Homo sapiens: one gene and its partner. The protein of the gene in region 2 interacts with the protein of the main gene of each other region in a biochemical or structural test. Each region holds a gene or a part of one and is shown on either strand. Other genes may lie near its edges.

Region 1 (3,221 bases), on a different chromosome or scaffold from region 2:
CTCTTTCAACTCTATTGTGATTAGATGCAAAAGCCCTTTCCCTTTAGAGAATTCAGAATGGTCTGTCTGAAGGCAAGAGAGCATAGTGACAGACCTGTAGCCCCAGCCCAGGCTGTTTCTCCCCATTCTCAAAGGCTCTGCCAGGAGAACTATAGAAATACAGAGTCCCAGGTCTCTGCCCCTCCTCCCCAGATCCAAGAGAGGGAGTAGAGACAAGGCACAAAGACCCTGGACGTAAAGGTGAACATCAGTGTGGCCACATATAACATTATTTTGAGAAAGGAAAGAAAGTGCATGCCCCAAAAGGGATGCCTTCCTTCACCTTGCAGGTAGCTGGAACTTTGATAGTGGCAGAAACCACAATGGAGTAGGGTTCACAGAAATGGCCTGTGAAACAGACCCTATTCCTAGAGAGACAGAGGAAAAACCTCAGCTGGTATGGCACAATCTTGAATGGGATGACAGAGGGCAGCGGGCAGACTTCTCCCGCAGGTGACACTCCTGCCTCAGGTCCCAATGGTTCTGCTGACTCCAGATGTTCCCCATAGCTGGGACTCAGAGAGGAAAACGTGTTGTGTTTCACATGATCAGACACTGTTCACCACTGGCACCTGGTGGGCCCGAAAGATTGAGGGCATCCAGGTCAAAGTTGAGGCCAGGAGGCTGGGGAAGAGATGAAGGGACTCAGATAGTTGCTCATTTTTTAGGACAGACGTGAAGATCCATCCCCAGTAGCCACAATTTTCACCTTAGGTGGAATCCTGAGAGGTTAAAGAATTCTGGAAATTGGGGACTCAAATTAAAATCTGGAAAAATAAGACATACTCACCATCTCTCCAGCCAGCTCTTTTGGAGGATGGCCTAAATCTTGTAGCTAGAAAATAAGGAAAATGGAACATGAAATAGAGAAAAGCCCAGAAAACAACAGAGGATCCAGAAGAGGAATCTAATGAATGATCTCTCTATTTCTTCTGAGAGAGATCACAAGAGAGGATCCCTCCTCCACCTAGGTCTAGCAGTATTGCATCCTTCCCAGATACTTCCTTCACTGAACACCTAAGTGGACAGCACCAGTGGGCAGAAGGCAAGAGGCCTTACCTGCTGCATAAGATCCAGCACCATCTCAAAACGAGCCTTTTGAGTGGTTTCACTGTCTGTGGGGGTCTCTGCCTCAAACTGCTCACATATTTTGCACATGACGCTGTGCTGCTCCTGATATTTTTCAAACTGCTCTGGAGGTAGAGATTCCCGATGACTCTGCAACCATTCTGGATACTAAGAAAAGAGAGAATGGGTGGAAAAGAATTAAGTGAACAATGGATATGGATGGGTAATCAGAACAATGTGATTAAAATGTGAAAGGGAAAGGGACGTAGAAAAACGAAAAGCTAAATAAGTAAGTTCATCATGAAAAGCGGCACTGACTCCAACCAGATCACCTGGCCATGTTAGCATTTATGGTCACCAGAGATTGGTAAGCTTCTGTAAAGGGCCAGACAGTGAATATTTTAGGCTTCAAGGGCCACATATGGTCTCTATTGTGTTTTTTTTTTCTTTTTTTTCGAGACAGAGTTTTACTCTGTCACCCAGGCTGGAGTGTGATGGTGTGATCACCACTCACTGCAGCCTCGATCTCCCCAGGCTCAAGCAATCCTCCCACCTGAGCCTCCCCAAGTAGCTGGGTCTACAAGTGTGCACCACTGTGACTGGCTAATTTTTTTGTATTTTGTAGAGACAGGGTTTCATCATGTTGCTCAAGCTGGTCTTAAACTCCTGGGCTCAAGCAATCTGTCCACCGTGGCCTCCCAAAGCGCTGGGACTATAGGAGTGAGCCACTACGCTCGGCTATTGCACATTTTCTTTGTAGTTTTTTTCAAATGACCTTAAAAATGTAAAAACCATTATTTGCTAGAGAGTTGGATTTGTCCCACCCAGGTCTTGGCCTGCTGACTCGTGGTCTGTACTATTCATTACACACTTACCCACATTTCCCCATGTCACTGAAAAGCTTCTATTCCTGTATTTTATCTCTCCAGTAAAACTATACACTCTTTAGCCAGGTGTGGTGGCTCACACTTGTAATCCCAGCATTTTGGGAGGCTGAGGTGGGAGGATCACTTGAGCTCAGGAGTTTGAGACCAGCCTGAGCAATATAGTGAGAGCTCAACTCTACAAAAAATTTTGAAAACATTGGCCAAGCATGGTGGCACACACCTGTAGTCCCAGCCACTCAGGAGGCTGAGATGGGAGAAACACTTGAGCCTGGGATGGGGAGGCTGTGGTGAGCCAAGATCGTGCCACTGTGCTCCAACTGGAGCTAGACCCTGTCTCAAAACAAAATGATACAACCACACATATAAGCTCTTTTATGGCAGGGACCATCATTTAAACTACGCTTACACTGTTCACATCACAAAGCCAGTAAGTAAATCCTCAGTTAATTCTTTTTCTTTTTCAGATGGAGTCTTGCTCTGTCACCCAGGCCGGAGTACAGTGGCACAATCTCAGCTCACTGCAACCTCTGCCTCCCAGGTTCAAGTGATTCTCCTGCTGCCTCCTGAGTAGTTGCGATCACAGGCGTGAGCCACTACGCCAGGATAATTTTTGTATTTTTACTACAGACGGGGTTTCACCATGTTGGCCAGGCTGGTCTCGAACTCCTGACCTCAGGTGATCCACCCGCCTCGGCCTCCCAAGGTGCTGGGATTACAGGCATGAGCCACCATGCCCAGCCAAATTCTTGCTGGAGAAATGAAGTCAGAAATGCAAGATTGATCAGACAACAATCCCAGAGTCTTGAACCAGTTTATAGAAAACTAGAACTGAAGGATTTCCTCTTAGACCCCAAACGTTATACCTCTTATACCCCAACATACCGTGTGACAGCTTTATTCTCTCAGAGACACAACTCTCCCCAACCCCCAACTCTCCCTGCCTCAAATAAATAAAGAAGGAAAAAAAGCACACTCGAGTTACTCTTTCTGCAGGCTCTGAGTAGACAAAATAGCCCACATCAGTTGATGTGATGGAAAATGAAGAGAAAAAGCAGAAATGGAAGTTCACAAACCTTTTCTGTGATCTCCTTCAGTGATGGGTACAGCACATCCTTGGAGAGTAGGTTCTGCATAATACTCTGCATGATGGGGAGGATGTTCCCTTCCCCATCCCCTTCGTCCATGCCTAGCCCCTCCATGGCCTTGGTCAGCTCTTCTTCCGACATG
Region 2 (3,808 bases):
TTCATATAGTTTGTATGGCATATATACGCATACGTGGTTTTTTTTGTTTTTTCTTTTTTTTTGGAGACAGAGTCTCACTCTGTCACCCAGGCTTACTGCAACCTCTGCCTCTCTGGTTCAAGTGATTCTCCTGCCTCAGCCTCTCAAATAGCTGGGATTACAGGCACACACCGCCATGCCCAGCTAATTTTTGTTATTTTTAGTAGAGATGGGGTTTCACCATGTTGGCCAGGCTGGTCTTGAACTCCTGACCTCAAGTGATCCACCTTCCTTGGCCTCCCAAAGTGCTGGGATTACAGTGCTAGGAGTACAGGCTCACATTTGTGGTTTTATCATGTTTCTTTTTAATTGGATGGGTAGGGGTGACTGTCTTAATTGGGCTGAGAGGCAAACCTGAGGACAAGTAACTCAACTTAACCTAAAGTCAGACTTCAGGATTCAAAAACCCTGAAAGCGTCCTAGACTGGGCTCATGGAAAGGGAAAACTGACTCCAATTTGACCAGTTAGTTTCTATTGTTATTTTAATTTTTTTTTTTTTTTTTTGAGACGGAATCTCACTCTGCTGCCCAGACTGGAGTGCGGTGGCGCGATCTTGGCTTACTGCAAGCTCTGCCTCCTGGGTTCACGCCATTCTCCCGACTCAGTCTCCCGAGTAGCTGGGACTACAGGCACCTGCCACCACGCCCGGCTAATTTTTTGTATTTTTAGTAGAGACGGGGTTTCACCATTCACAGGATGGTCTGGATCTCCTGACCTCGTGATCCGCCCACCTTGGCCTCCCAAAGTGCTGGGATTACAGGCGCGAGCCACAGTGCCTGGCCTCTATTGTTATTTTCATAGTGTAAACATCCAGAAAATAAATGCTTCGGTACCCTGAAAAATGTCCAGTTTCTGAACCACTTTCTGAGTTGCAAAAGCACAGTAATTCAAGAGTTTTACCAATTTAATCCACCGTGAGCTCTCGGCCAACAGTAATGTGAAGTATTTTCCAACTACAGTGATGTTTTCTTTAATTCAGAATTCCTGAAGATCATTTTTATACTTCCAAGCTTGCTAACTTGAGTCATCATGGATTTTTCCATACTGTATTTAAAGCAGTAATCCCCCCAAGAGGGGCAGGTGATGAGATCACCTAGCAGGCCTCATCCAAGTACAGTTTTCCCATCCACAGGACTTCAGTCCCCTTCCCCACTGAGAATCCCTGCATAGGCCACATAACCCCCTATGACTGGGTGGGAAAAAACACTGAGAACCACTTATCTAAAGACTGTCAACGTCACAAGTTGAAAGACCCCTCTTTTTGTTGCTGAATTTTATGGAACTGCAGGCCTCTTGTCCCAGTAGATGTGGCAGCTGGTTCCATTCTCTCCCAAACACACAGGGGAATGATTAGTAGCAACGCACACAACCTAGAGTGCTGCACCAGGTCCTGCCCTTGCCAGTTAGTTAGTGAGCTCCCTTGCCAGTTAGTTAGTGAGCACCCTTGCCAGTTAGTTAGTGAGCTCCCTTGCCAGTTAGTGAGCTCCCTGAGCCAGTTAGGTAGTGAGCTCCCTGAGCCAGTTAGTTAGTGAGCGCCCTTGCCAGTTAGTTAGTGAGCTCCCTTAGCCAGTTAGTTAGTGAGCTCCCTTGCCAGTTAGTGAGCTCCCTTAGCCAGTTAGTTAGTGAGCTCCCTTAGCCAGTTAGTTAGTGAGCGCCCTTAGCCAGTTAGTTAGTGAGCTCCCTGAGCCAGTTAGTTAGTGAGCTCCCTTAGCCAGTTAGTTAGTGAGCTCCCTTGCCAGTTAATTAGTGAGCTCCCTTAGCCAGTTAGTTAGTGAGCGCCCTTAGCCAGTTAGTTAGTGAGCTCCCTTGCCAGTTAGTTAGTGAGCTCCCTTAGCCAGTTAATTAGTGAGCTCCCTTAGCCAGTTAGTTAGTGAGCGCCCTTAGCCAGTTAGTTAGTGAGCTCCCTTGCCAGTTAATTAGTGAGCTCCCTTAGCCAGTTAGTTAGTGAGCTCCCTTGCCAGTTAGTTAGTGAGCGCCCTTGCCAGTTAGTTAGTGAGCACCCTTGCCAGTTAGTTAGTGAGCGCCCTTGCCAGTTAGTTAAGTGAGCGCCCTTAGCCAGTTAGATAGTGAGCGCCCTTAGCCAGTTAGTTAGTGAGCGCCCTTAGCCAGTTAGTTAGTGAGCGCCCTTGCCAGTTAGTTAGTGAGCACCCTTGCCAGTTAGTTAGTGAGCTCCCTTAGCCAGTTAGTGAGCTCCCTTAGCTAGTTAGAGAGCTCCCTTGCCAGTTAGTTAGTGAGCTCCCTTAGCCAGTTAGTTAGTGAGCTCCCTTAGCCAGTTAGTGAGCTCCCTTGCCAGTTAGTTAGTGAGCTCCCTTGCCAGTTAGTTAGTGAGCTCCCTTAGTCAGTTAGTTAGTGAGCGCCCTTGCCAGTTAGTGAGCGCCCTTGCCAGTTAGTTAGTGAGCTCCCTTAGCCAGTTAGTGAGCTCCCTTGCCAGTTAGTGAGCGCCCTTGCCAGTTAGTTAAGTGAGCGCCCTTAGCCAGTTAGATAGTGAGCGCCCTTAGCCAGTTAGTTAGTGAGCGCCCTTGCCAGTTAGTTAGTGAGCACCCTTGCCAGTTAGTTAGTGAGCTCCCTTAGCCAGTTAGTGAGCTCCCTTAGTTAGTTAGTGAGCTCCCTTGCCAGTTAGTTAGTGAGCTCCCTTAGCCAGTTAGTTAGTGAGCTCCCTTAGCCAGTTAGTGAGCTCCCTTGCCAGTTAGTGAGTGCCCTTGCCAGTTAGTTAAGTGAGCGCCCTTAGCCAGTTAGATAGTGAGCGCCCTTAGCCAGTTAGTTAGTGAGCGCCCTTGCCAGTTAGTTAGTGAGCACCCTTGCCAGTTAGTTAGTGAGCTCCCTTAGCCAGTTAGTGAGCTCCCTTAGTTAGTTAGTGAGCTCCCTTGCCAGTTAGTTAGTGAGCTCCCTTAGCCAGTTAGTTAGTGAGCTCCCTTAGCCAGTTAGTGAGCTCCCTTGCCAGTTAGTTAGTGAGCTCCCTTGCCAGTTAGTTAGTGAGCTCCCTTAGTCAGTTAGTTAGTGAGCGCCCTTGCCAGTTAGTGAGCGCCCTTGCCAGTTAGTTAGTGAGCGCCCTTGCCAGTCAGTGAGCGCCCTTGCCAGTTAGTGAGCGCCCTTGCCAGTTAGTTAGTGAGCGCCCTTGCCAGTTAGTTAGTGAGCTCCCTTAGCCAGTTAGTTAGTGAGCTCCCTTGCCAGTTAGTTAGTGAGCTCCCTTAGCCAGTTAGTTAGTGAGCGCCCTTGCCAGTTAGTTAGTTAGCTCCCTTAGCCAGTTAGTTAGTGAGCTCCCTTGCCAGTTAGTTAGTGAGCTCCCTTGCCAGTTAGTTAGTGAGCTCCCTTAGCCAGTTAGATAGTGAGCGCCCTTAGCCAGTTAGTGAGCGCCCTTGCCAGTTAGTTAGTGAGCGCCCTTGCCAGTTAGTTAGTGAGCTCCCTTAGCCAGTTAGTGAGCTCCCTTGCCAGTTAGTTAGTGAGCTCCCTTAGCCAGTTAGTTAGTGAGCGCCCTTGCCAGTTAGTTAAGTGAGCGCCCTTAGCCAGTTAGATAGTGAGCGCCCTTAGCCAGTTAGTGAGCGCCCTTGCCAGTTAGTTAGTGAGCGCCCTTGCCAGTTAGTTAGTGAGCTCCCTTAGCCAGTTAGTGAGCTCCCTTAGCTAGTTAGAGAGCTCCCTTGCCAGTTAGTTAGTGAGCTCCCTTAGCCAGTTAGTTAGTGAGCTCCCTTAGCCAGTTAGTGAGCTCCCTTGCCAGTTAGTTAGTGAGCTCCCTTGCCAGTTAGTTAGTGAGCTCCCTTAGTCAGTTAGTTA

What was found.
Region 1: the proteins of PXMP2 (region 2) and PEX19 form a complex in vitro, tested with the Homo sapiens proteins (one study listed by IntAct).

The regions. Positions count from the first base shown.
Region 1 is NC_000001.11:160,278,972-160,282,192, forward strand, and holds part of PEX19 (peroxisomal biogenesis factor 19), read right to left. Parts: coding exon 3,068-3,221; intron 1,276-3,067; coding exon 1,099-1,275; intron 875-1,098; coding exon 830-874; intron 664-829; coding exon 580-663; 3' UTR 1-579. UniProt on the Homo sapiens protein: Necessary for early peroxisomal biogenesis. Acts both as a cytosolic chaperone and as an import receptor for peroxisomal membrane proteins (PMPs).
Region 2 is NC_000012.12:132,690,526-132,694,333, forward strand, and holds part of PXMP2 (peroxisomal membrane protein 2), read left to right. Parts: intron 1-3,808. UniProt on the Homo sapiens protein: Seems to be involved in pore-forming activity and may contribute to the unspecific permeability of the peroxisomal membrane.